Homo sapiens: one gene and its partners. The protein of the gene in region 3 interacts with the protein of the main gene of each other region in a pairwise test. Each region holds a gene or a part of one and is shown on either strand. Other genes may lie near its edges. The genes, in order: MFAP1, TLK1 and PINX1.

Region 1 (8,070 bases), on a different chromosome or scaffold from region 3:
TGATACACTTACATAAAGGAATACCAGCAAAGCCTCAGACACTTATTTTAAATTCACTGATTTTTTTTTTTTTTTAAAGCTAAGAAGACCTTTTAGGGAAAGAGAATTTGTAATGTTGGAAAACCCAGCAGTAATAGTATGTCTGAACGTCAGAAGGGCTAGAATCAACTTTTGAAAGTTGGCAATACCTAGTCTAGCAAACATAATGAAGACTAACTCACCCATTTGTTTATTGAGCTCCTTATCTTGATTCCTAATAGGCAATGACTAGAATTAAAGAAGGTGACTAATACTTGAAATGACATGGGACTGTTATTTTCAGATAATTTGGTCTTTCTGAAGCTGTAACAGTACCAATAAATTGTTTTGCTCCCTGGACAGGCTTGAGAAGGAGAAAGCAGAAATTGAACGCATGCGAAACCTGACTGAGGAAGAGAGGAGAGCTGAACTTCGGGCAAACGGCAAAGTCATTACCAACAAAGCTGTTAAGGGCAAATACAAGTTCTTACAGAAGTATTATCACCGGGGTGCCTTCTTCATGGTAAGAAGTGAAAAGAGAGTCAGAAAATTGGGCAGTAGGAATAACTCAGAAACTTTGAATTATTTTTCTCTTCAAGAATATTCTGGAATGTAATTTCCACTTGCCAGTGGTCAGCTTTCTCATTTGCTTTTTCCTTCTGAACAATATAAACTCAGAGAAAAGCATCAGCAATTGGATGACAGAAGTAGCATCAACTGTTCTCTCTTTTGGCCCCAACTCTCAAAAATAGGAAATGATGTAATAGACTTTTTTTTTTTTTTTAAGAGACAGAGTCTCGCTGTCACCCAGGCTGGGGTACGGTGGTGCGATTATAGTTCACTGCAACCTTGACGTCCTGCGCTTTACACCTGCTTCAGCCTCCAGAGTAGCTGGGACTACAGGCATGCAACAACCATGCCTGGCTTTTTTTTTTTTTTTGGTTATTTTTTTTTTAATTTTTCGTAAAGACCAGGTTTCACTATGTTGCCCAGGCTGGTGTTGACCTTCTGGCCTCAAGCAATCCTCCCACCTCAGCCTCCCAAAGTATTAGGAATACAGGCATGAGCCATCATCCCCAGCCTTAGATAAATTGAGGAAATGAAATAGAGAAGTGATCTGTACAGATAGTGGACTAATTAGGTCCTCCACATGACATAGTTGTCATTCTTTCATAGCTGAATGAGAAGTTTTGGTTATGTGAAAACCAAACTCTGCAAATAGCTTTACATTAATTCACTTTTGGGTGGCAGAAAGTTAGTTCACTTCATTCTGAACTGACAGTACCCAAGAGTAACTAACCAAAAAAAATGGTTTATTATCTAACCATTAGATGGAATGCCGTCATCTTTGTTTTTCATATAAAGACTAAGATCAAAATAGCAATCTGTTAACCCTGTATGGTTTATTTCCTAATGTTAAAGCAGTTTGCACCAAAAACTAGACTAGCTTTTTCAAGTGCCGTGTGGCAAATTCTAAATATCCCCACTGCAACTAAATTCCTGCCTTTCACTGCAGATGCTGTTAAAACTTCAGTGGCGGCTTCCCTGCCACCCTCCAAAATCAGTTTCAGGTCTATCTGATTAGCAGGAAGTGTTTACTTAGGTAGTTTTCCAGCAGATGTAGCTTACTATTCAGTGGAGATTATGAACTACTTCTTGTACTGCTTCGGTCATAAAGTTTGTTTGCTTAAGCAGTTCGCAGCTTTAATAATCAAGTTTCTTAGAGAAGCAGTTCATTGCTAGTTAAGATACATAAGAAAAGTGTATGTGAAAGTCCTTTGGTGGGCCAGGTACATTGGCTAATGCCTGTAATCTTAACATTTTGGGAGGCAAGGCCAGCAGATCAGTTGAGCCCAGGAGTTCAGCCCGGGCAACATGGCAAAACCCCATCTCTACAAAAAATACAAAAATTAGGCGTGGTGGTCCGTGCCTGTAGTGTCACCTATCAAGGGGCTGAGGTGGAAGGATTGCTTCAGCCCGAGAGGTTGAGGCTGCAGTCAGCCGTGATCGTGCCACTGCACTGCAGCCTGGGTGGCTGACCAAGACTTTGTCTCAAAATAAATTGTTTTTAAAAAGTCTTTCTTAAACAAGATAGTGCTATTTTTAATTCCTTCAGCATATGTGTTTATAAATATGTATCACAGCATTGTAATATTATCACTCAGGCTAGAGTGCAGTGGTGCAGTCATGGCTCACTGCTGCCTCATTCTCCTGGGCTCAAGCAGTCCTCCTGCCTCAGCCTCCTGAGTAATTGGGACTACAGGTGTGTGCCACCACACCTAATTTCTATTTTGTAGAGATGGGTTTTGCTATGTAGCCCAGGCTGGTCTCAAACTCCTGGGCTCAAACTCTCCTTCCACCTTGGCCTCCCAAAGTGCTGGGATTACAGGCAAGAGCAACTGCATCCAGCCTTACTAATGTTGTTTATTTCATTGAGTAAGTAAGCTTTAGTGCATATACTATGCAAAGGTCACTGTTTAGCACTGTTAGCGAGAATACATAATCACTATAACATAAGTAAAAGTAAAGTACTGTAGGGGTTCTGACGAGAGAGATGTTATATTTGGTAGAAGATTGAAAGGGTTGACGTAAAGGTTGTAACATTTAAGCATTTAAGATGTATAATTTTGGGCCGGGCGCGGTGGCTCACGCCTGTAATCCCAGCACTTTGGGAGGCCAAGGCAGGCGGATCATGAGGTCAGGAGATTGAGACCATCCTGGCTAACATGGTGAAAACCCATCTCTACTAAAAATACAAAAAATTAGCTAGGCGTGGTGGCGGGCGCCTGTAGTCACAGCTACTTGGGAGGCTGAGGCAGGAGAATGGCGTGAACCTGGGAGGCGGAACTTGCAGTGAGCCGAGATCACGCCACTGCACTCTAGCCTGGGCGACAGAGTGAGACTGTATCAAAAAAAAAAAAATTAAATATATAATTTTTTTTTTTGTCACCTAGGCTTGAGTGCAGTGGTGCGATCTTGGCTCACTGCAACCTCCGCCTCCCGGGTTCAAGCAATTCTCCTGCCCCAGTCCCCCAAGTAGCTGGGAATACAGGCGTGTACCACCACGCCCAACTAGTTTTTGTATTTTTAGTAGAGACGGGGTTTCTCCATGTTGGCCAGGCTGGTCTTGAACTCCTGACCTTAGGCGATGTGCCCACCTCAGTATCCCAAAGTGCTGGGATTACAGGCGTGAGCTACTATGCCCGGCCAAGATGTATAGACTTTTTGACATTCGGTGCTGGGAAGACATTCCAGGTGGAGACCAGCAGGAGTGGAGGCAGAAAGCATCAGCTGTGAAGGGAAGCGGCAAAGAGAACTGAAAAGGTGGATTAAGGCTGTATAATATTTGGCCTTGATTACTACACAGAGGAGTTGTATTCATTTATTTATTTATTTATTTATTTTTGAGATGGAATCTCGCTCTGTCACCCAGGCTGGAGTGCAGTGGTGCGATCTCAGCTCACTGCAACCTCCACCTCCTGAGTTCAAGTGATTCTCCTGCCTTGGCCTCCTGTGTAGCTGAGATTACAGGTGCGCGCCACCAGGCCTAGTGTTTTTTGTATTTTTAGTAGAGACAGAGTTTCACCATGTTGGTCAGGTGGGTCTTGAACTCGTGACCTCGTGATCCGCCCGCCTTGGCCTCCCAAAGTGCTGGGATTACGGGCGTGAGCCACTGCGCCCAGCCTAGGTGTTGTATTCATTTAATAGACAACCATTGAAGTTTTTGAGCAAGGCAAAGATTATAATGAGTTACAGTCTAGAAACATCAGTGCCATGACAGTATGTGAGACTGATAGTAGAGGAAAACTAATAACCCAGGTGGTAAGAGTTTGTAAGATGTGGCAACTGATTGAATGCACACAGAGGTTACTCAGTTTTGAATCTAGGTAATCGAAGAGTACGCTGGTCCTACTAACAGAAAAGTTAAAGAGAAGAGGTTGATATGGAAAGGTTAGGTATTAATAAATGGTTTTCACTTTAGACGTGCATTTCAAGTCCCAATAAAATATCCAACTTATGATATATGAAAGCCAGTAAAAAATCCAGGATTGCAGATTTGAGAGGCCTATGCAGAGTTGAAGTCACATGAGTAAACAAACACATTGAGTGCAGAGAATAAGCCAACCTTCAAGACACGTCTACACTCAAGGAGAAAATTAGGCATAGTTGCATGCACCTGTAGTCCCAGCCACTCAGGAGGCTGAGGTGAGAGCATCGTTTGATCCTGGGAGGTCAAGGCTTCAGTGAGCAGTAGTGACCCCACTGCACTCCAGCCTGGACATCAGGACATCAGAATGAGACGCTGTCTCAGGGAAAAAAAAAAAAAAAAAGGAGAAATACAACAAAGGAAAAAGAATATCATCTCGGCCGGGCGCAGTGGTTCACACCTGTAATCCCAGCACTTTGGGAGGCCAAGGTGGGCAGATCGCAAGGTCGGGATATCGAGACCATCTGGGCTAACACGGTGAAACTCCGTCTCTATTAAAAATACAAAAAATTAGCCGAGTGTGGTGGCATGCACCTGTAGCCTCAGCTACTCGGGAGGCTGAGGCAGGAGAACTGCTTGAACCTGGGAGACGGAGGTTGCAGTGAGCCAAGATCGCGGCAGTGCACTCCAGCCTGGGCAACAGAGCGAGAGTCCGTCTCAGAAAAAAAAAAAAGAATGTCATCTCTTCAACTAGATGTAAGCTCTTGAAGAAAGGCTCAATACCCTCTGCTTTCTCTGTATCCCTTATTGTAGAGTTTAATAAATTTGTGGTTTGAATATATAGGAAATAAAGCCACAAGATTGATAAGATTTTTTTTATACAGGATGAGGATGAAGAAGTATACAAGAGAGATTTCAGCGCTCCTACCCTGGAGGATCATTTCAATAAAACCATTCTTCCTAAAGTCATGCAGGTATGGGGAACCTTAATAACATGACAGAGAAAAGTGATGTATTGATAGCTGAGGCATGGTTTGTTTGGTGGTATAACTCATCATCCATCCTTCCCTCAGGTCAAGAACTTTGGACGCTCAGGTCGCACCAAATACACTCACCTTGTGGATCAAGATACCACCTCCTTTGACTCAGCTTGGGGCCAAGAGAGTGCCCAGAACACAAAGTTCTTCAAACAAAAGGCAGCTGGGGTACGAGATGTATTTGAGCGGCCATCTGCCAAGAAGCGGAAAACTACCTAGGGTCCAACTGCTTATTCTTCCAACTGTGGAACACAAGGGGAGTCTCAGCATCTGGTCCTTGATTTGGTTTTTTCATTGTTTCCTTGGCCCCTGTATCCAGATATTGGACTTACTGCTATACTTGTGATACTGGGTAGCCCAGACTTTGAAGGTGCTTTGTGAGGTTTGGACTCATGCTGAGAAACCCACAGGAAAGCACTGTCCAGGTAGGATTAGAGGCTTCCCACTTAAAACTATTTCTGAGAAATCTTAGGTTTTATCACTGCTATGGTTTCCCATATTTACTTGGGACTGTTCTGACTTTCTTTTTCCAGCCCTTAGCTTGGGTTAGAAAAGTGGACATGTAAGTGAACAATGCATTACTTCTACCTTAGGTTTAGGAGTAATATACCCGGAAATCTAAGCTCATGGAAACATGTTTTCCATTTTTGCTTGGAGTCCGTTTTTCTAGTTGTACATACTTTTTGATCCATATATGTGTGCATGTCAAGAAATAAAAGAATCACACAACAAGGAGATTTTTAGCATGATACTGGAAATAAAATGTCCAAGCTGACAAGTATTAATTGCCTATTAAAGTAAAAGATAACAATTGTCAGGCAGAAGGTGTTTCACATTTTGATAATTCCCTTTGATCTCAGAAACAAGCTCAGGTACTAGCTTGGCTTTAGGTAGCATCTGGATTTATTCCATGACCAAATACAGATGTTTTTGAGAAGACCAAGGTCTTCTCACATCCTTTAAATGTCCCACTGGAAGAATCAAATAGTTTAGTGTCGTACGATAAAAATGAATGCAAATAATTACTATGAGGTGGTAAATACATAAAGATGAACACAGGTACAAGTCACTGTTGTGTGGGATACAATCTAAGAATTATCCTAGAGTCAGAATGAGGGTAAGGCCTTGAAACTCTTGGAGAAATGTCTGTAATTGCCATTTGAGTGTCCTTACAGCAGACTCAGGGGCCGTTGCAGGGTTTTTTTTTTGTTTGTTTGTTTGTTTTAAAGAGACGGCTCTGTTGCCCAGGCTAGAGTGCCTCAGCCTCCCGAGTAGCTGGGACTACAGGCGCCTGCCACCATGCCTGGCTAATTTTTGTATTTTTAGTAGAGACGGGGTTTCACCATGTTAGCCAGGATGGTCTTGATCTTCACTTCGCGATCCGCCCGCCTCAGCCTCCCAAAGTGCTGAGATTACAGGCGTTGAGCCACTGTGCCTAGCTGGGGCCGTCACAGTTTTATAGTTGAGGAAACTAGTTCAACATGTGTGAGTTGGTCCAAGCTGATTTTTTTTTTTTTTTTTTTTGAGATGGAGTTTCACTCTTGTTGCCCAGTCTGGAGTGCAGTGGCGCGATCTCTGCTCACTGCAACCTCCTGGGTTCAAGAGATTCTCCTGCCTCAGCCTCCCTAGTAGCTGGAATTACAGGCGTCCACCACCACACCCAGCTAATTTTTTTTTGTACTTTTAGTAGAGATGGGGTTTCACCATTTTGGCCAGGCTCGTCTCAAACTCCTGATCCCAGGTGATCCACCTGCCTCGGCCTCCCAGAGTGCTGGGATTATAGGCATGCGCCACCACGCCCGGCCCTGATTAACCTTTAAAGTAAAATTACCTTCTCTCTAGGATAGGAAATGGCATGTAGAATGTATTATGGCTTAGAATTTGAATACCAATCAAAACCTTTCATAGGTTTTTTTCGTTTTGAGACAGTCTTGCTCTGTCGCCCAGGCTGGAGTGCAGTAGCACAATCTCAGCTCACTGCAGCCTCAACCTCCCAGGCTCAAGCAAATCCATCTCAGCCTCCAGAGTATCTGGGACCACAGACAGGCACATGCCACCATGCCTGGCTTTTTTTTTTTTTAATTTTAGTAGAGACAAGGTCATGCTATGTTGCCCAGGCTGGTCTGGAAATCCTGACCTGACACAGTCCTCCCAGCCCAGCCTCCCCAAAGTGCTGGGGTTACAGGCATGAGTCACCACACCTGGCCCAACCTTTGATATCTTCTAGTCTTACCATGTTCTAACCCTCAGGTACCTAAATTCTTTTTTTGGTGGTGGGGGGAGCGCGGTAGAGACGAAATCTCACTGTGTTGCCCAAGCTGGTCTCAAACTGCTGGGCTCAAGTGATCGTCTTGCCTCAGCTTCCCAAGGTGTTGGGATTACAGGCATGAGCCACCATGCCTGGCCCCTAAATTCTTTTTTGTTGTTTTGTTTTTGAGACAGTCTCGCTCTGTCACCCAGGCTGGAGTACAGTGGCACAATCTCAGCTCACTGCAACTTCCGCCTCCCTGGTTCAAGCAATTCTTCTGCTTCAGCCTCCTGAGTAGCTGGGACTACAGGCATGCACCACCACGCCTGGCTAATTTTATTTTTTTTGTATTTTTAGTAGAGACAGGGTTTCACCATGTTGGCCAGGCTTGTCTTCAACTCCTGACCTCATGATCCGACTGCCTCAGCCTCCCAAAGTGCTGGGATTACAGGTGTGAGCCACTGTGCCCGGGCTTTTTTTTTTTTTTTTTTTTTTGAGATGGAGTTTCACTCTTTCCCCCAGGCTGGAGTACAGTAGTACAGTAGTGTGATCTCAGCTCACTGCAACCTCTGCTTTCCAATTTCAAGCGATTCCTGCCTCAGCCTCCAGAATAGCTGGGATTATAGGCGCCCACCACCATGCCCAGCTAATTTTTCTATTTTCAGTGGAGACGGGGTTTCACATGTTGGCCAGGCTGGTCTTGAATTCCTGACCTCGTGATCTACCTGCCTCGACCTCCCAAAGTGCTGGGATTAGAGGTGTGAGCCACAGCACCCAGCCAAATTATTTTTTTTTAATCACTCAAAATCAAGCATGTTGTAGGTACCAAAATTCTAACT
Region 2 (12,407 bases), on a different chromosome or scaffold from region 3:
TGTTGTATTTCTCACTGGGTCTTATGTAGGAGGTACTTAATGAACACTTGTTGAATAAATGGTGATTAAAGGTTTTAAAAGTCAATTATGTTTCAATTTAGGTATTATTCTGATAGAAACTTCTTCAGAAATGTTAAGTAATTGTTGCTAATTAGAAATCTGTTTTGTTTTGTGTTTTTTTTTTTTTTTTTTGCTAATATAAAAATTTTAATAATTTCTTTAGGTTCGACCGAATAGCCCTTCTCCTACTGCATTAGCATTTGGGGACCACCCTATTGTACAACCAAAGCAATTATCCTTTAAAATTATTCAGGTAAATGATAATTAAAATGTTTTTTTCTATGGCTTCTAAGAAACCATTGACTAACTTACTAACAACTAAGATGTCTGTTTGTTTTATATGTAGTCATAAAGCAGAATTACACATCAAGAAAGATAACTTACTAAACAAAAACAACAGAATTTGTAGGAAGGAGTGAGAAACTGAAACACACAATTTACTATCAGCTTTTTAAACAACCGTTAACATGTCAGTTCTGTTTACTGATTCTTTCTGAACTTAATTTCCAAGTATATGTAATTGATATTTTGTGAAACTGCTGTATTTTTTAGAAGTGGACATTAAAGCCTCTCATTTGACTGTATTTATTAAATACGTATATGTGACAAATTATAAACATTATTTGAATTATTTGTATATTTTCTATACTTATTTAGTTTCATGAATTTGAGCACTAAGTTTTTCATTTTAATTTTTTACATGTGACAGTTTCTGAGTGGCACTTTCTCAGACTGGGGTTTGGGAGAGTAGATCTTACTCTTCAAGCTCAGCTTGACAGTTTATTTCTATTAGACTGTATTTGTGAGGTCATATCCAAACTGTTGTGCATGTATCAAAACCTCTTTCTTTGGATGATCCTGAGGCTAGGATTAGAAGTACATTCCTTTCAGCCACTGAGTAGATCATGAAAGGTTTTGCTGCATGAGATGTTGGTCAAAGGACATAAAATTTTAGTTGGAAAGTAAGTTCAAGGGAACTATTATACATCATAGGGGCTACAGTTAAAAACAATATTTTGTGTATATGAAAATTGCTAAGAGAGTAGATTTTATTCACACCACAAAAAAAAGATATGTGTTAAATAACTTGATTTAGCCATTCCACATTGTATATACATATATCAAAACATCGTGTTGTGTACCATAAATAGATAGGTTTTTACTTATCAATTTAAAAAAGGTCTTGCAAAATTCAAAAAAATCAACTAGAGGAACGTATAGCACAAAGCAGCGGATATATTGAATTATAATGAGGAACATCAGTATTCTAAGTAATTGGCCTTTCTAGATGTTTCTTGGTAAGTCTGTAGCATTTATACACTTGAAGTTATTAAAACTGCACTAAAACTTTTTGAGATTCACTTTACATATACACACAAATATATTTTTCTTTACCTTTTGAATTTGGAGTAAAATCTAGTTTTATGTTTGCTTGAAACAACATATATAATGGAGATAATAAAATAACTTTTTTTCATTTAGACTGATCTCACAATGCTGAAATTAGCAGCATTAGAAAGTAATAAAATCCAGGACCTGGAAAAGAAGGAGGGACGTATAGATGATTTGCTCAGGGTAAGTAATGAGTCATAGAGGGGAAAAAAATTGAATAAATTATTTGGCAACAGTCAAACTGTTCAGAAAATACTTAGCATTGTAAAAAAATCTGTAGCTAGGCCAGGCGCAGTGGCTCATGCCTGTAATCCCAGCACTTTGGGAGGTCGAGGCGGGCAGATCACAAGGTTGAGAGATCAAGAGCATCCTGGCCAACATGGTGAAACCCCGTTTCTACTAAAAATACAAAAATTGGCTGGGCATGGTGGTGCGTGCCTGTAGTGCCAGCTACTTGGGAGGCTGAGGCAGCAGAAATGCTTGAACCCGGGAGGTGGAGATTGCAGTGAGCTGAGATCACGTCACTGTACTCCAGCCTGGCGACAGAGTGAGACTCTGTCTCAGAAAAAAAAAAAATTCTGTAGCTAGAACTCAATAAGCTTTTTCTGTTAGTTTAAGTACATGATTGAAAAATACCAATTTTAAAGTGAAATATTTTATTAGATCTTCAATAAATTGGGAATTGAGAAACTGTTGGAGAACTGGAAGTTAATAACATTTATATGACCAACTACCATAACACAAATAGCCATTTCATGTTAAAGTTTATTGATTTTATTATATGCCTGACATCTGATACCTATACGATGAAGTAACTGCTGCAGTTCTGTAGGATTTTTAATGGAAGCTTTATTTAAAAATACATCTAGAAGTATACTTAAGAATGTAAGGGTTTAAAGCAGCAGTTCTTACCCCTTGATGCTCCTTAGACTCACCAGTTGGGAAGGGTGAAAGTACTAATGCCTGAAACTCTACCCTGAGGGGTTCTGATCAAGTTGATGATGATGTAGGTCTTGGACATTGGTAGTTTTAAAGGCTCTCCCAGATAACTTTAATTTAAGACAGCATTGAGAACTACTGGTGTAGAAACTCGATAAAACCAACACCTGTGATCCTACTGTATTTGACAGTGTCTTTAAAACATCCAGTGTGTCTTTTTCCTGATCCTGTCATATTTACTTTCTCACACCCATTTACCATTTAACCACTATTTTAAATTTTGTATTTGTGATGCCTTGGTGTTTCTTTATGGTTGTATTAAATATGTGCTTACATTCTTCACAACATATTATTTCAGTTGGTTTTTGAACGTTAAGTGAAATTTTCCAGTATGGACCCTTTTGCCCAGCTTGTTTTCAATGAAATATATCAGAGAGTCATCCACTTTGATGAGTATAACTGTAGTTTGTTCATTTCATTGCAATATTGTAAGGTGTTACAAGTATACCATAATTTCTGTATCTTTTCTGCTTTTAGTTGACATTTTATTTCTACTTTTTCTAGTATAAACAGTTCTAAGAACATTCTTTGTACATGTCTTCAGGGCACATATGAAAGAATTTTTCTGTGGTATATGTTTAGGAAAGACATAGCCAGAGTACAGGGCATACGCATTTTCCATTTTACTGTATAATACCAGTTATTTCTCAAGGTTTTTTGGTCTGGTCTTTTTTTTCCCCCGCTAAGTGACAGGGTCTCACTGTGTCGCCCAGGCTAGAGCACAGTGGGGGATCATAGCTCACTGTAGCCTCAAACTCCCGGGTTTAAGCAATATTTCTACCTCAGGCTCCCAAGTAGCTAGGACTACAGGCTCATGCCATCACTCCGGGCTGATTTTTTTTTATTTTGTAGAGCTGGGAGTCTACAGGCTGGTATTGAACTCCTGGCCTCAAGTGATCCTCCCACCTTGGTCTCCCAAAGTGCTGGGGCTATAGGCATGAGCCACCATGCCCAGCTGATCTTTCAATATAAATTATTAGTCTTACTGAAATTGGTTTTGGGTATGGCATGATGTAGGGTTTCATTTCAATTTCTTTCTATATGGATAACCAGTTGTTCATCCCCATTTAATTAAAAGCTCATTCTTATACTGCCAGCTCTATCATCATAAAATCTTGTTTCCAGTATACAGGTGGATCTGTTTCTGTGTTCTGTATCATGTTTCCTTGTTCTGTTTGTGTCTCTACACAAGTACTGCAGCATCTTTTTATCATTGTTGATAAAACAATTTTTATCAGTTGTTTTTGGCTGTTAGTAACAGTGAACATAAATAACAGTACTTCAGATGAGATAGAAGCTTATTTTTCAAGAGAAGAACAGAAGTGGGCAGCTCAGATATTATTACTCCTCAGTATCATAAGGGACCTTGTCATTGTTAGTTCATGGCTTATATCTCAAAGGTCACATCAAGGTTCAATATATCTATTAGGGTCACAATTATATCTGTGTTCTAAGCAGATAACAGGAGGGAGGATGGGAGCAGAGAACACAAAGCACAATTCTGTGTGCAGCCTTCTTGGATATCTCATTGAACAACTTCTGCTTGCATCTCATTAACCATCCTTCGCTCTAAGGGAAGCTGGGAACTGTAGTCATTTGGCTAGGCAGATAGCAATCCAGGATAAAACATTGAATTTCCATTATTAAGGAAGGAGGAGGCTTGGGTGATCATAGTTATGTAGCTTTATGTTAAGTCATGATACATGGTTAAACAGATATCCTCTTCTTCTTTTTGGCTATTTTTGGCCCTTCACAGTCTTAGAGAAATTTTAGAATCAGGTTTCAAGTTGCATATGCATCATACACACACAGTGTTGAGATTTTGTTTGAATTGCTGAGGGTCTATTGGTGCTAAATTCTGTTTCCTCTTCCTTGAAAAACAACTGTGTTGGGTATCTAATTTTAGGTTGGCAATTCTTTTCTCTCAGCACTTTTAAGATTTTGTGCCCTTGTCTTGTGGATTCCACCATGGTTGGCCTAGACTTTTGATTCTCAAAGTGTGATCTTCAGACCAGGAGCATCAGTATTACTGGAGAACTTATTAGAAACGGAAATTTTCAGGTCCTTCCTGAGACCTGATTCAGAAGCTCTGGGAATGGTTCCCAGTAATCTGTTGTAACAAGCCCTATAGGTTATTCTCTTGCCACTGTACTAATCAGACTCATCTTTTGATGTTAGAAGGAAGCCTCTTCTCTGAGCATATGGCCACCTACAAAGTGAACAGAATTAGTATCCTATTGCTAAGGAAGAATGGTGAGGACAGTTGTTGGGTAGGCAACTTGTGTATGTCATTTATAAGTTCAGTGGAGAAAATATTTTGTTAGTTATAAGAGATAGAGGAAAACCCACATTTAATTTGTTAATTATAAGAGATAGAGGAAAACTCACATTTATTTTTAAGTGATAGACACTTTATATACCATATTTTAGTTATTTTTAACAAAGTGAGGTAGATTGTGTTGCTTCTATTTAGAAATAAGAAAGCTGAACTAAAGTTCTTATAACTTAGCCAAAGTTAACCTTAGAGTATGGATTTGAATGTATGGATATGGATACAAATTTCCCTGTATGTACTTTCCACTACACACTTAAGTAACATTTAACAGTATTATCTCATGGTTAAGTAGGCTTTTTTTTTTTCTCGTATCATACTCAGATATTTAATATTATTAGTCCTATCTGTATATAATTTATTTAGAACATTAAAACTATTTCTAAGCTTTTCATATTCCCCAGTCTAGACCTCTTGCATTTTCTACTTATGTCATAGGCTAACTGTGATCTCAGACGGCAAATAGATGAACAACAAAAATTACTTGAAAAATACAAAGAACGATTAAATAAGTGCATATCAATGAGCAAGAAACTTCTTATTGAAAAGGTAGGCTAAAAGTTGAGTAAATTTTCGCTTTCCCTTCATTAGCCCCTTTTGCTTTGTATGCTTTTATAAATTAATGAATACAATTGAGTGATGATTTTTTTTCTCCTTTTCAGAGTACACAAGAAAAGCTGTCAAGCAGAGAGAAGAGTATGCAAGATCGATTACGCCTCGGGCACTTTACAACAGTTAGACATGGCGCTTCATTTACTGAACAATGGACAGATGGTTTTGCATTTCAGAATCTTGTGAAGTTAGTCATTCTTAACATTTAAAAGTTTTTAGTATTCGTTTGGGTTTTCATTACTTTAAAAGATTATAGATTTGTAATTATGCTCTCCAGTTCCTCGCTACTCTGAAATCATAGAATTTAGTACCTTTGAAAGGGATATGAAACCAAGAGTATTACAGTTTTAGCTTAGTAATTTCTTGATTAATTAGCAGTCATCTATAGAATGTAATATATTATTCTAATTCTGACTTTCCGAGATATTAATTGAACCTTTAGCTTTACAGATGATGTTTTGAGAGGGAAATTGTTGAAAATTTAATTTTCACTGGAAGATTTGTGTGTGTGTTTATTTCCTAGGATTTTCCTACTTAGTTTTTTCCCATTCCCCAATCCTTACATGTTAATGTTCAGCACTTGCCTGCTCTCTATTCCTAAGGGAAAAAACTTCTCTTTTGCCTCAGATATAATAACTGATTTATCAGTTAAACTGAACATGTGGCTTTAGCGTTTCTGAGGTAAACTCTATTTATTATTTATTTATTTTAATTTCAACTTTTATTTTAGTTTCAGGGAATATATATGCAGGTTGTTACAGGGGTATATTGCTTGATACTGAGGTTCGGGGTACAATTGAACCCACCACTCAGGTAGTGAGCATAGTACCCAGTAGTTTTTCAATCCTTGCCCCTGTCTCTGCCTCCTTCATCTTTGTAGCCCCCAGTTTCTATCATTCTCATCTTTATGTCCATGTGTCTCCAATGTTTAGCTCCCACTTATACATGAGAACATGCGGTGTTTGGTTTTCTGTTACTTTTCAGATCAAACTTTTAAACAGAGGAATTATAGTTACCATATTTTCTTGAGTTCAGATGGTGGTAGAAAAGGATTTATTGGCTGTTTATGTGTTAAGGAGTGCTAAATATGCTACTCCGTTTTTGGTGGAAAATTTTTTTAAACCTGAAAATGGGGAGTAATGCCAGCATGAACATCAGCTTTTCCAGAGTATCCAGTTATTTGAAATAGAGGCAGAACTTACTTTCACATGGTATCACACCAACATTGCTGTTCAAACACTGCCTCCTAGGACTTGCCACAGAATGGCCTTCTCTCTCAGCAGATTTATTCAACTTTTCTTCAACATATCTGTGCTAGTTATACCACAGTGAAACAAAGGATAATGTCCTTGTGATATTAGAGAGTTTGGGTTTCAATTCTGCAGATAATGGGACTTGTTAAAGGTTTACATATAGTGTACGTGATCGGAATGATATCTACAGTGATAGTTGTAGAATAATAACTGATGGTAATGTGAAAATATTATTAGAGGATGAATGTTATTGGTAGTTAAGATGGAGGGGTATCCAGATGAAAGGTGATTAAAGCATGAACTAACATATCAACAGTAAAGTGGAAAGCAGGAGAAGATAATTTTTTAGTGTTTATGAGCAAGAGGCTCTGCTACTAAACCCAGACCGGCAATTGTCCTGCAATGAATAAAAGAGACAGTTATATAATTAATATGAATGTTCTGAAATATAAATTCTACTAGTAGTTCCAATTTCTCCTCTTAACTGTCAGAAAAGAGGCCACAGGTGCAGTGGCTCACGCCTGTAATCCCAGCACTTTGGGAGGCCGAGTTGGGAGGATCACCTGAGGTTGAGAGTTTGATACCAACCTGGCCAGCAGGGTGAAACCCTGTCTCTACTGAAAATACAAAAATTAGCCAGGCATGGTGGTGGGCGCCTGTAATCCCAGCTACTCGGGAGGCTGAGGCACGAGAATTGCTTGAACCTGGGAGGTGGAGGCTGCAGTGAGCCGAGATCATGCCACTGCACTCCAGCCTGGGCGACAGAGTGAGAGTCTGTCTCAAAAAATAATGTCAAAAAAGAAAATAATTACTTGTATGTCCTGACTTTCACTAATAAGCATTTATTGAGGACCTACTGTGTGTATATCAAGCCGTTTATAATTGGTGATATAATCCAGAGTGGTTAGAAGATGAGAAGAGAAATAAATAAAAGTAATAATATTAATCTCTAAACTGTATAGTCATCCCTGAGTAATCAGCTATTAATATCTATTCCAGTAATTCTTTACTTTCCATTAATATTTTAATCATTAGGATTATTATTGCTTATTTGCATTTATACCATCTTGATTGTGCCCTAAAATAGCCTTAAGATTTACTTATTAAAAATTGAAATTTATTCCTGCTTCTAAATGAAAACCGGATTAAAGTCTTGTTCTCACTTTGCTATTCTTGAGATTTTTCTCTACCCTTTCAATCTTCTACCTAGATTCTTCTTGATTTTTTTCACTCCTATCATATTCTGCTACTTTATCACTAAAACCATAGGGAAGGGGATGTGTGTAAGGTCAATTCTGCATTAGCAAAGTAGGAGCCCTTTAGTTGATGTCAGTGGTTGGGGAGAGGAGGGCATGAAATATTTGACTTGCTCTAAGTATTGTAACCATGTAGGATTTGAAAATTTTTTATTGGCATAGTGAGGTGACCTGAAAGAGAACATGGTTACTGTTAGAATAAGCTTAAGGTGTTGTATGATAAGTTGGTTTTAAAAAGCTTCACTGTTAACTACTTTATGCTCTGCTCAAACTGCTAAAATATCTAATCTACATTTTAATAATAGACATGGTATCTATTCGTTTTTAGAATTAGGGAGCTATTTGCAAAATTGTTTCAGTTTCTTGAATGGGAAGCATTGATTTTATTTTTGTTACTTTCCCATTTTTCAGAGCCATGCTAATTTTTCTTGCTATTTTCTTGTCTTTTTCCCCTTAAATTATCAAAAAAATTTTTCTCATAAATTTCTTATATTAAGGTTAATTTGTCTCATTTCAAAACACCAACTTCCCATTACCAATTTTTTTTAACAAAAGTAGATTTAGAAAATAACTCTCTTCACATTAAATTCATATTTGCCTTTTGTAAATTTGTTTGCAAATACTGTGGTGAGATGCATGTGTAACATATACCCCATACTTTAATAGTTTGGGGTATTGTTTTATCTCATTTCATTCAAGAAACATTTACTGAGCAAAGGTAAGTGATGATCACTACACTAGGTACTAGGGATACAACAGTATAAATACTGTATAAATAGACACCATCTGTGTTCTTAGGGAGTGATGTCATCTAACCGGACACTTTCTGATAAAGTATCTATAGGAATAATATTTATTAGAAAGAGTGAGGTGGGGAGATAGAAGATCCCATGAAATTATATATGGCAACACATCTTTCCCTAATCTAGGGGTTTAGAGAATACCTCACTTAAAAAAATTCTTTCAAATGAGACCTGAAGGATAAGTACAAATTGGTTCACAAGAGTGGAACCAAAAGGTTACGAATGTATATTTTATGGTTTTTCATGTTTTTTATGCATTTTTTCCAAGTTTAGCCTTGAAAAGTAATGGAAGGTTAATATGGTTTTATTTGTTTATTTTTACACAGGCAACAAGAATGGGTGAATCAGCAAAGGGAAGATATTGAAAGGCAAAGGAAACTTCTAGCCAAACGCAAACCTCCCACAGCTAATAATTCTCAGGCACCCTCTACCAATTCTGAACCAAAACAAAGGAAAAACAAAGCAGTCAATGGAGCAGAGAATGATCCCTTTGTTAGACCAAATTTACCACAACTGTAAGCCTCCATTTAAAATTTTTCTTTTTTAAAATTGTTGCCAGTGAGCGTGAATGTTACTAATGGATGTTATTTATAATTAATACTTAGATAGCAAAAATGATTAAGACCAGGAAGGAAGGCAGTATTGAAAATTTAGCTCTAAATTAATAGCCCCAAATATCTGAATTCTACCGTTTTAAGCAGAGATTTAACAATTCTCTTTTAAAACAGAGACCTAGGTAGCTAAGAGGTTACCAGAATTCACCCTTCTGTGTCTGAATCAGTTAGGAATCAATTAAAAGTTTTGGATTATTCTAATTCAACGTTTCCATTCACATTCCTTTGTCTGAGAGAATGAAGTAATGTAACTACCATTTATATGTTTTCTCAGCCTGTGAAAGCAGTTCATTAGTGGGTTATAGGTATTGTTTTTCCCTTTCTGCTTTTCTTTGTTTTCTGGATTTTCTTTGTTAATGAATTATTCTTTATAATTTAAAGGACAAAGACATTTTTTAAAAGAAAATTTGGAAAATAGGACAAGAATAATAATATAGACCATGATCCCATTTCACAGAGAACACCATTGTTAAAATTTCAATATACAGATGTATCCAAACTTACATAAATTTTCTGTTCTAGAAGAACTTACGTAAACTCACGTGAGTAGAAAATACATAGACCGGGCACGGTGGCTCATGCCTGTAATCCCAGCACTTTGGGAGGCCAAAGTGGGTGGATCACGTGAGGTCAGTAAATTCTCAGAGAGAAACCCCGTCTCTACTGAAAATACAAAAATTAGCCGGGCATGGTGTCAGGCACTTGTAATTCCGGCTACGCAGGAGGCTGAGGCAGGAGAATTGCTTGAACTTGAGAGGCGGAGGTTGCAGTGAGCCAAGATCGTGCCATTGCACTTTAGCCTGGGGGACAAGAGTGAGACTTTCTCAAAAAAAAAAAAAAAAAAAAGAGAAAATACATGTACCCTCTAATGTCTTGTATGTCATGTATTCTTTTCTCCTCTATTGAAAGATTGTCTGTCATCCATGCTTTGAATCCCATCCACACCTGTATCAGGAACCTCTTCTGTTGATACCTCCTTTGTGCTCTGCTTGTTACTTCCCTTCCAAAAACATGTAAGCAAAACCATTAAAAAACTCTCCCTCAATTACAAATCCCTTTAGTCTCTATATTCTGTATGTTCTCTTCATAACTAGGCTTCTTCAAAGAGTTGCCTGTCCTCGTAGTCTCTTCTGCCTTGTCTTCCAGTTGCCCTTTCTTAACTGAAATTTTTCTTAAGATTATCTTCCTGATGCTAAATGCTGTAACATTTGGGTCTTTAACTTACGTAGCAGCACTGAATATTGTTGACTTATTTTTTTCCAAAAAGACTATTTTAGTTTTGAAGATACTGAAGTTTCCATTTTAACTCATCCGGCTGCATCTTCTCAGTCTCTTTCTATGGGCATCATTTACTTACCAATCTGTAAAATGTAGATGACTTTTAGGGATATGTCCTAGGCCGTCACATTTCTCACTCTGCGTATTCTCCTTGAGTAGTATCTACTCTTAGGGTTTCGGTTACCGTATACATCCTGCTGACATCAAAATTACCATCTCCAGCCCACTTTTCTCTTGAGTATCGGATACTTCTGTCTCAGTCTTGAATATCACATCCTGCTTAGTTGCTATCAGTACTTAAATGTCTCACAGGAACTTCTAATGCAGCCTGTTCAAAACTATATTTACTAAAAACAAATAAAACCTTGTATTTACTGTTATCTTTCCGATTCAGTCTGTCTTTACACACACATACTTTGCCCCTTTTCTGTGTTCTCTTAGTGAGTGGCACTACCATCCTCTCACATGTAAGAATTCTAGTTGTCACCTTTAACATTTTAAGTACAGATTTTATTTATTTTTATTTTTTATTGTTTTGAAGAGATGGAGTCTCCCCATGTTGTCCAGGCTTGTCTTGAACTCCTGGGCTCAAGCTGTACTCTTTGCCTTGGTTTCCCAAAGTGCTGGGATCACAGGCATGAGCCACTGCACCCGGCCAGATTTTGTTGATTTTTTCTTAATCCATTAGTAATTAGATGGTGATAGTATTAATCTTTCAAAGTCCATCTCAAAATGTACTTTCTTCTTAAAGCCTTTCTTAATTTTCTTGAGCTGTTGTAAGTTACAATTAAAACATTTTGACTATATTAATTTTTTAAAAGAACTGTACTTTTTGTAAGTTAGTAAATTTGTTTAAGAAAAAACCAAAAGCCAGGTGAATGACTGGCTTGGTGGGTGATTGTATTAAAAGAAAGTGTGGGCTGGGTGGGATGTCTCACACTATAATCCCAGTGCTTTGGAAGGCTGCGGTGGGAGGATCACTTGAGTCCAGGAGTTTGAGACCAGCCTGGCCAACATAGTGAGACCTTGTCTCTATTTCTTTAAAAGAAAAAAAAAGCAAAGTATGTGTTAGCTTTAACTCTACCCTGTAGATGCCCAGTCCTGCTAGATACCAGATATGTCCACTCATCCTTTATGCAAGTTCCCGCTAACACCATTCATTCTAACTCAAGTTAATGCTGTCTTTTACTTGGGTGATGTTTATAATCTCTCCCTCTTCCCGCTTCAATTTTGGTCTCTTCCTGCAGTCTGTTTTCATGTCGTAGAGTCATTTTTCTGAAATAAAAATGTGATCCTTTCATTCTCTTCCCTATAACCCTAACAAAGCTCTCCAGTACTTGAATGATCTAACCCAAAAGTCCTAATATGGCTTATAAAGCACTTTTGATCTGGCTCCTTCTTCGTTATCTAGCCTCATTGTTGCCATCACTCAGTACTTCTACTTCACTGCCAACATTCAGACTCTCACCCATTGTCTTAATTTCTGTTAATCTGTTAAGTCCCACGGTAGTTATCGCTTCCTCCTGGAAGCTTTTCTTTAATATATGAAAGATGGGAGTTATTTATTACTTTGAGGTATCACCATAGTAAGTACCCTCTATCTCTTCAGTCGCAGCATCAATGTCCACTCAGGTGATGACACTAGGAATCTGCCTGTCATCTTAATGTTTCTCTTTCCCTCATTCTCTGTGTCTGTTTCCATAACATTTTCATGTTTGCTCCATTCTTCATTTTCACGGTCACTGTCTTAGTGTAGGACCTTGGTTTTTTTTTTAACCTAGATTACTATTTTTCATGTCTCACCATGT
Region 3 (7,881 bases):
ATTTTTCTGCATCATGTCATTTCAGGTTTATCTGTCATCACTAAAGAAAAAAAAAAAACATTGATTCTGTAACTGCCTGATGGGTTTCTCTCGCAGGCTAACCAGATAGACCTGGTTTATCAAGACAGGGGAATTGCAATAGAAGGTTTAATACACATAGAGCTAGCTAAATGGGAGACTGGAGTTTTATTATTACTCAAATAAGCTGTCCCGAAAATTCAGAAACTGAAATTTTTATACAGTAGTTTGGCAGGCAGGAGGCTAGGGAATGGGGATTGCTGATTGGTTGGGTTGGAGACGAAATCATAGGTAGTCGAAGCTCTCCTCTTGCATGAGCCACTTCTTGGGTAGGGGCCACAAGACCAGACGAGCCACTTTACTGGCCTGGGTGGCTCCAGCGGATCCATCAGAATGCAGAATGTTATGGTCTATTATAAAACACCAATCTTAGGTTTTATAATAGTAATGTTATCTATAGGAGCAAATAGGTAGGTTAGCAGTCTTGTGGCCTCTGGCTGTATTATACCTGAGCCATGGTGGGGCTGTTTCAGGGAGGGGCTGTTATCATCCTTGTTTTAAAATTAAACTATTAACTAAATTCCTCCCAAAGTTAGTTCAGCCTACACCCAGGAATGAACAAGGGCAGCTTGGAGGTTAAAGGCAAGATGGAGTTGGTTAGGTCAGGTCTCTTTCATTGTCATAATTTTCTCACTGTTATAATTTTAGCAAAGGTGGTTTCAATTCAAAGGCAAAATTTGGTTTCTTGGCTTAAAACCTTTACAGTTCTAATTTGCCAGTTACAGACAGAATGATTCTACTTTTTAAATACTTGACTTTTGTAAGTACTCACAGCTAGTATACAAATTGTAGGTTATTTGAAATAGTCAGAGTATTAGCAATTTCTGCTTCCGGCCATGATGGAGTAAAGAAACTGGATTTACCCTTCCACCTTCACTACAAAGCTGGGAAAAATAGACAAAACAATGGTTTTGAGACATTGAGCAACAGGCAGTGAAAGACTGCAATCCTAACAATTTGGTAATAAAGGAGGTGAGCCCTTTGATAGCCCTCATTTCTGGCCTGAAGAGTTTCCAGGTTGCAGCATAGGGAGACGGAACTCAGACAGAACCTGGAGGTCTCACTGAGCTAAGGTGACAACAATCAAGGAAGCTAGGATTCTTGGGGCCGAGTGTCAGAGAGAAGAGAATTATACCAAGGGAAACTCCAGATATTTGCAGAAGCGTCCCCTCAAGTCTTCAAATGAAGATTGAGCAACACTTGCACTGGAGGAAACTACTGGGAAAGAACCACCAGAGACAAGAAGGCAGAAAAATCCCCAGAGCTCACACAGGGCCAAAAGCAACTTGCGTTTCCCCAGTGGAAATAATTTCTAAACACATGGAGCATCAAGCAGAGTCCTTGACAGGCTGCTGCTTTAACAATGGGACCAGATTATAACTAAACTTAAAGACTATTGTGGGCCCATCTAGCAAAACTTACACAAAAGGCTTGCAAAGGCCACATTTTCCCCAAAGGACTTAACTATCCCAGAACAAAATATTTGAAGGAATACAAAAGCCTTCAGCCCCCAATAAAGTAACACTCACAATGTCGGATGTAAAATAAAAAGGTTACCAGGTGTGAAAGATGCAGGAAAATATGACTCACATCAAGAAGAAAAATGTACCAAAAAAAAAAAAAAAAAGCATTAGGAAGATCAAACAACAACCCATAACCTTACCAACTAGATATGGTTTTCAGTGAAGAATTAGAGTATTACCTTTTAGACTTTAATTTAATATGTATTTTTTAATTACTGATATTAAATGAACTATGAATGATCAACTTGGTGTCCTAGAGATTTTTTCCCCTTTACGTATCTTGAGCACTTTCTCATGTGTATTTCACTTTTCTGCTTGTAAGAATCAACATTCACTTGGCTTACCTTATGTAATGGGAGGTATATTAGAAGTATGAAAAGGAAATAAGACTCTCAGCTAAATGAACCAAGGTAGGAAAAAAGACAAATAATCGGACCTCACAGGGAGTGAAGGACCAAGAGTGCAGCCAGGCTCTGCAAGCAAGTTCGCTGGGGCCCCAGGGCCTCTCCAGAGCCTCAGGAGAAGCTGTTAGTGAATGAGTGTTCCCTCTGATGCTCTGCCTTAGGGAGATCTAGCCCTTATTATCTCAGTCTTCCTTCTCTTCATACATCTTTTGGCTTCTTTTGTTGTACAGAATGGCTTCTGGCCTGGATCATTCAAATCCGTCCTACATGCCTGATTAGTGTTGCCTAGTCTAGAATTTCATATAAATGGAATCATATAGCATGTACTTCTTCCACTGAGCATCATGTTTTTGAAATTAATTCAGGGGCCAGCGAAATTTTTCTTAAAGGATCAGACAGTAAATATATTAGGTTTTGGGGGCCACACAGTCTCTCCCAACTGCTTAGTTCTGCTGGTGTGGCCAGAAAGCAGCCAAACAATAGATACATTAATGAGTGTTTATCTATTGTTTAGCTGCTTTCTGGCCACACTAGCAGAACTACGTACTTGGGAGAGCCAACTACCTGTGTAGAAAAAAAAAAAAAGAGAAACTACTTTACCCTTGAGTCCATTCATACCTTTGCTCATGTCATGGACTGTTATGCAAAGAAAGGTCTGTGGATCATTGGTATCCACATTTTTAGACCCTGTTATAAATGCAGAATCTGGCTCATGCCTGTAATCCTGAAACTTTGGGAGCTGAGGTGGGAGGATCACTTTAGCCCAGGAATTTGAGACCAGCCTGGGAAACATAGGGATATCCTGTCTCTACAAAAAATAAAAATAAAAAAATTTAGCTGGATGTTGTGGCACATGCCCGTAGTCATAGCTACCTAGGACACTCAGGTGGGAGGACTGCTTAAGTCAGAGAGGCAGAGGCTGCAGTAAGCCATGGTCACACTATTATGCTCCAGCACGGACAACATAGTGAGGCCCTGTCTCAAAAAAAAAAAAAAAAGGCAGAATCTCAGACTCACCCTAGGCCTGCTGAACCAGATGTGCATTTTAACATGATCTCTGGGTGACTGGCGTGCACAGTCATGTCTGTGAAGTATTGCCCAAGGGAGTCTGCTGAGACACTGAAGGACAAGATGGAATGGGTTACATTGGATCACCTTCTTTTAACAAGTGCAATTTCCACTCCAGCTGGCCAGTTAAAATACAAACAAGATTCTGTAATTTTTTTTAAATCCCAAACTTAATAATATTCTTTTTCAGTAGATGATCTCCATTAATATTTCATAGCCATATAGAATGCTGGGGTTGAAACAAAATAGGAAACCATCCTGCATTCACCAAAAGGCAGAGTCCCTTCTACAATATTCCTCTGTGGCCTCTAACTGAGCGTTTCCAGGAGACACCTCATTGTAACAGAAGATCCAACGATAACTAACCATTTACCACCTGAACCATGGCAACAGGCCATAAATGTCTGCTTCGATCTTCTTGACCATCTTAGAGACAAAATTACCTTTCTGAAATCATATACCAACACAGGAGGTGCTTGAAAAACTCTGATTTCCGACTAATTCAGTATTCTCCATTCTATATAACTACCTTCCACTCTCTCTGGCATAATCCAATAGATCTGCTAATTATCCTAAGATTTTTGTGATCCTGCCTTCCTGAGTCCAGTGCCCTACTTTTAACCTTGTTCCCTATGTCACAATGTCACAGCTTTCCTGCCTTGGCTGGGAAAATTCCATTCACTTGCCTCCCCTCACCCCCTCAGTATTCACTGATAGCTATAAGCATCCTTTTGTGTTTCTTCTAACTTTTATGAAACTAGGGTTTACCTTTTTCATCCAGATTCCTAGTTAAAGGGAGAATTTCATTGTAAACAAGAATCTAGTCCTTCAATTGCTTTTCTTGGCACCTGAGTGGTGCTCTTTTTACCTTCCTTTTATGTAGGAAAGGCTTCTGTGTGCACTGTCACCTGAAGTTTACTGGAGAGTCACTCACCCAAAAACATGTCTTTACCATACTTAAAAGTGTTATAGCTAAGAGCTTATTAGAACTCCCCTGGAGACAGGGATACTTGAATTAAATTTTGCAAACATCTATGGAGCCTTACCATACTCACATTATTTTGCGAGGTGCTGGTACGAATACAGAAATGGATATAATAAAGGCAACCTTCCAGTGTGTGCACTGTGGTGGAGAAAATAAATAAAACCTTTGCCTTGTTGAAGGCATCCCATTATTTAAAGAGGTAACATTTTCCCCACAACTATTTTGTGTGGGGTCCCACAAAAAAACCGATAGATAGCAGACCTATCTTCTGATATCTATCTACTATCTATCTATCATCTATCTATCTATCTATTTATCTATCATCCATTTGTTTATCTATCTCAGAAAGCAGAGGTAGGGTACGAGGAAGAGATGGGACATTACAATGCAAAGTCCTCCCCTCCAGCCAAGTTTTTCAAACTCCTTGTCCATACAACATCCATGACCCTAAGTTCAGCTCTTTACACATTTCTTTTCCCCGTGAGGCTGAGCTGCTTGAGGGCAGGTCACGTCTTTCCACTACCCTTCTTGCCGGCACCTAGGGCTTCCTGATGGAGACCCTACAGGTAATCCACGTGAGCTTATGCTCCGCGGCAGACACGCCCAGGCGGGCTTTACTCACATCAATAGCTTAGTACGCACACTCCCTCTAGCCAATGAGCGAATACGTACTCCTTTCTCCACCTCCCGCAGGGCGGCCACCGCCCCCTCAGTCCCTCTTTCTCCCGTCACCTCCCCAGGTTGCCCCGCCCTGCTCCGCCCCCTCGCCGCCGCGTGCTCGAGGAGCGAGTCGCGCGCTACTGACGTCACCAGCACGCGCCCCGTCCGCTGCAGTCCGCCGGCGAGGGAGTTACGCACGTCCTGATTCTCCTGGAGTCTCCAGCCCGCCCAGTGGCCGCAGTCACCCAGGTCCAGAGGCGGCGGTATCACAGGCTCTCCGACATGTCTATGCTGGCTGAACGTGAGTGTCGGAAGCGGAGGCCCGACCCAGGCGCGTTGGTGAAGATGCCGGGTGACGCGCACGGCAGCCCGGAGTGGCTGGGAGCTCGGGTTGCCGGCGCGCCTGGCGCATGGGATCGGGGGACCGGGGAGCCGAGCCCGGCTCTGATTGTCCTGCTCGCCGCAGAGCTCCCCGAAAGTTGGCCGCAGGTCTGCTAGTGAGAGAGACCGCAAGTGTCTCCCGGAGACGCCGTTCTCAGAATCACCCTGGGTCGCGTGCGAAGTGGGTCAGAACACCGGGTCCCGGGACTGGCCCCGCCGCCGCCCTTTGTGGGGTCCCGGACTGGTTGCTTCACCCACCCCGGACCTCAGCTTCCTGAGGTTAAAAAGAGAAGGTTGAGCAGAAGGATCACTTGAAACTGTAATCACATTGTCCAAGATGTCTTGGACCCAGAAAAAGAAAAAGCAAAGGAGTTAGAAGTCTCAAATATGGGACGTCAGCCACTTAGCGAGGGAGTGCAGGGCTAATGTGTAATTCTAAGTGAGACTGGCGTTTTTGACCTTGTTAGTTGGCCACAGCGCCCCGTCCTGCCTGTTTACCTTTGACATTTATCTTCACTTGGTGGAGTCGGTGAAACCCCTGTCTCTGTAGAGGCTGCTGAACTTCTGAATTGTACCTGTAGCGAAGGTCGCTTGCCGCCAGATGGCAGTCATGCTTTGATCCTGAAAAGCGGGTCCTGCTTGGCGAGTTGTACAGTGAGCAAAGAACAGAAACAGCTTATTTAACAGATCAAGCAGACCAGCACAGGGATTTTGTGAAATAAGTGCTGTTAGCACTCTCTTTTCTAAGAGGGTGGAGGACTTAGGAGCACAAAACGAAATGGGTCAGGCACCATCCCGATTTTACAGGGGCAGAAATTGACGTTCAAAGGAAAATAATTTGCCCCTAGTCATTGAGGTAGAAAATGGCAAAATTGATCCAGTTATCTCTGTATCTTTATGTTCTTGCCAGTAAGACCAGCGGAGACCCATAGAAATGAGTATGTTTTAGACTGAACCCGTCGGTTCTATTTTTTCACCAGTAAAAAATGAGGAGTCAGGGTTAGAGCCTAGATAGCTAAGATCTCTTCTGGTTTTCGTATTCTTTGATGTTTGCTTAATTCAGCATGCACTTGGCGACTTTGGCCCTAGTTCTGCTATTCATTTATGTCTGTTCCTTTGATCAGTGTTTGTGAGGCCACAAAATCTTCTCTTAATATTTTTATCCCTAGGTGGCCTTAAATCAGTGAGATGGTGAACATGAACATAGTTTGAAAAGTCTGAAGTATAGAGGTGTAAAATGCTATTTGTAGGCATCAGTAATTCAGATTACATGATTTCAAGAGAGTGTTTTCAGTTCTCCTCTTCCCAACGTTATTCCAAATTGTCAAATCCTTGTCATTATAATATGTAATATTTTTGTGTTTTCTTTTTCGTAATTTGCTAAATGGGTATAGCATCTTCTGTAATTAGATACTTAGGATTGGTGTTGTTAAGAAGAAAAACCTTAGACAAATTATACAGAGTTTGATTGAGCAAAGAATGATTCAAGAATTGGGCAGCCTTCAGAACTAGAACCGGTTCTAAGAACTCCAACCTGCTATGTGGTCAGGCAGTATTTATGGACAGTAAACGGAAGTGAGGTACAGCGACAACTTGGTTAGGGTTACCGCTCTGATTTGCCTTATTTGAATCAGATGGCTGCCTGTGATTGAAGCCTAGCTGCTGTAATGGATTGAGGCTCACTTATATGTTATAAGAGTATACTCCTACGGTAGGCTTTCGCTTCCTTTAAGTTCTAACGTAGGTTGCAGTTCCTTATGTAAGGACTCAAGTACGGAGGCCTCCTCAGGCCAAATTTAATTTAGTGTAACAATACTCTCCTTCTGATCAACCTCTGAATTTTGAGAGATTGTTTAAAACTTCTGCCTCTGGCTCTTGGGACTCAACACGCCCTTTAGAGTAAATGGGATCCTAGCATAAGTCATGTGGTATTGAGCTGTTGTGTGGATGGTTTTTATTGGATTTGCCCCAAAAGTATCCCGACAGACCCATTTACAGTTAGATCTCCACATAGGAGTACCTGCTAGAGGATGGTTAAATACTTCCCAAATAGTGATTCTGCAGATTCAGGGCATTCTACCTGAGGCCCAGCGCCATGCTGTAAACACTGCTGTTCCAGATCGTGTCAAGGGTCCCCAAGATCATCCCCAGATTCAATGATGTGCTGGGGGATTCAGGCACAGGACTCAGCATATAGTCGCACTCACTGCTAAGATTTATTACAGCAAAAGGATGTAGAGCAAAGCCGGCAAAAGGAAAAGATGCACGGGGCAAAGTCCAGGCTAAGCCAGGCGTCAAGCTTCCAGAGCCCTCCCCCAGGGAGTCACACATAACACGCTTAATTCCTCCAGTAGTGAGTTCTGAGAGCAAATATGGAATGTTGCCCACCAGGGAAGCTAGTGAGAGACTCGGTGCTAGGGATTTCCTGGGGCCTGGTCACATAGACACCCTCTACCTGGGAGGCACCAAAATTCCTGGCTCGCAGAAGGAAAGCAGGTGCTCAGCATAAACTGTATCATTTGCATAAACAGGCACAATGAGCCACTCTTACCAGTTCTGCGAATGGTGGGAACCCTTGAGTTCCCTGTTATGAACAGGCCTTTCAAAGGATAGCAGTCAGGCCTTCTGTGTTAGTGAACAAAGCTGAGATCTGAGCACAGAACAGACTGTGGCATGAGAATTACAAAGGACATGTAAAAGGTGATCCAATTGGAACAGCTCAGAGGCAGTCTTTTCCTTACCATGATTTTCCACACCTGGAAACTTGGGTGCCATTAGAGCT

Evidence for each region.
Region 1: the proteins of PINX1 (region 3) and MFAP1 interact in binary tests that used the Homo sapiens proteins (3 or more experiments, as listed by UniProt).
Region 2: the proteins of PINX1 (region 3) and TLK1 interact in binary tests that used the Homo sapiens proteins (3 or more experiments, as listed by UniProt).

Annotation. Positions count from the first base shown.
Region 1 is NC_000015.10:43,802,226-43,810,295, reverse strand, and holds the end of MFAP1 (microfibrillar-associated protein 1), read left to right. Parts: intron 1-381; coding exon 382-541; intron 542-4,830; coding exon 4,831-4,920; intron 4,921-5,019; coding exon 5,020-5,202; 3' UTR 5,203-5,804; downstream 5,805-8,070. UniProt on the Homo sapiens protein: Involved in pre-mRNA splicing as a component of the spliceosome.
Region 2 is NC_000002.12:171,042,989-171,055,395, reverse strand, and holds part of TLK1 (serine/threonine-protein kinase tousled-like 1), read left to right. Parts: intron 1-223; coding exon 224-313; intron 314-1,542; coding exon 1,543-1,635; intron 1,636-5,221; coding exon 5,222-5,332; intron 5,333-5,445; coding exon 5,446-5,582; intron 5,583-9,033; coding exon 9,034-9,222; intron 9,223-12,407. UniProt on the Homo sapiens protein: Rapidly and transiently inhibited by phosphorylation following the generation of DNA double-stranded breaks during S-phase. This is cell cycle checkpoint and ATM-pathway dependent and appears to regulate processes involved in chromatin assembly.
Region 3 is NC_000008.11:10,836,876-10,844,756, reverse strand, and holds the start of PINX1 (PIN2/TERF1-interacting telomerase inhibitor 1), read left to right. Parts: upstream 1-4,881; 5' UTR 4,882-5,000; coding exon 5,001-5,019; intron 5,020-7,881. UniProt on the Homo sapiens protein: Microtubule-binding protein essential for faithful chromosome segregation. Mediates TRF1 and TERT accumulation in nucleolus and enhances TRF1 binding to telomeres. Inhibits telomerase activity. May inhibit cell proliferation and act as tumor suppressor.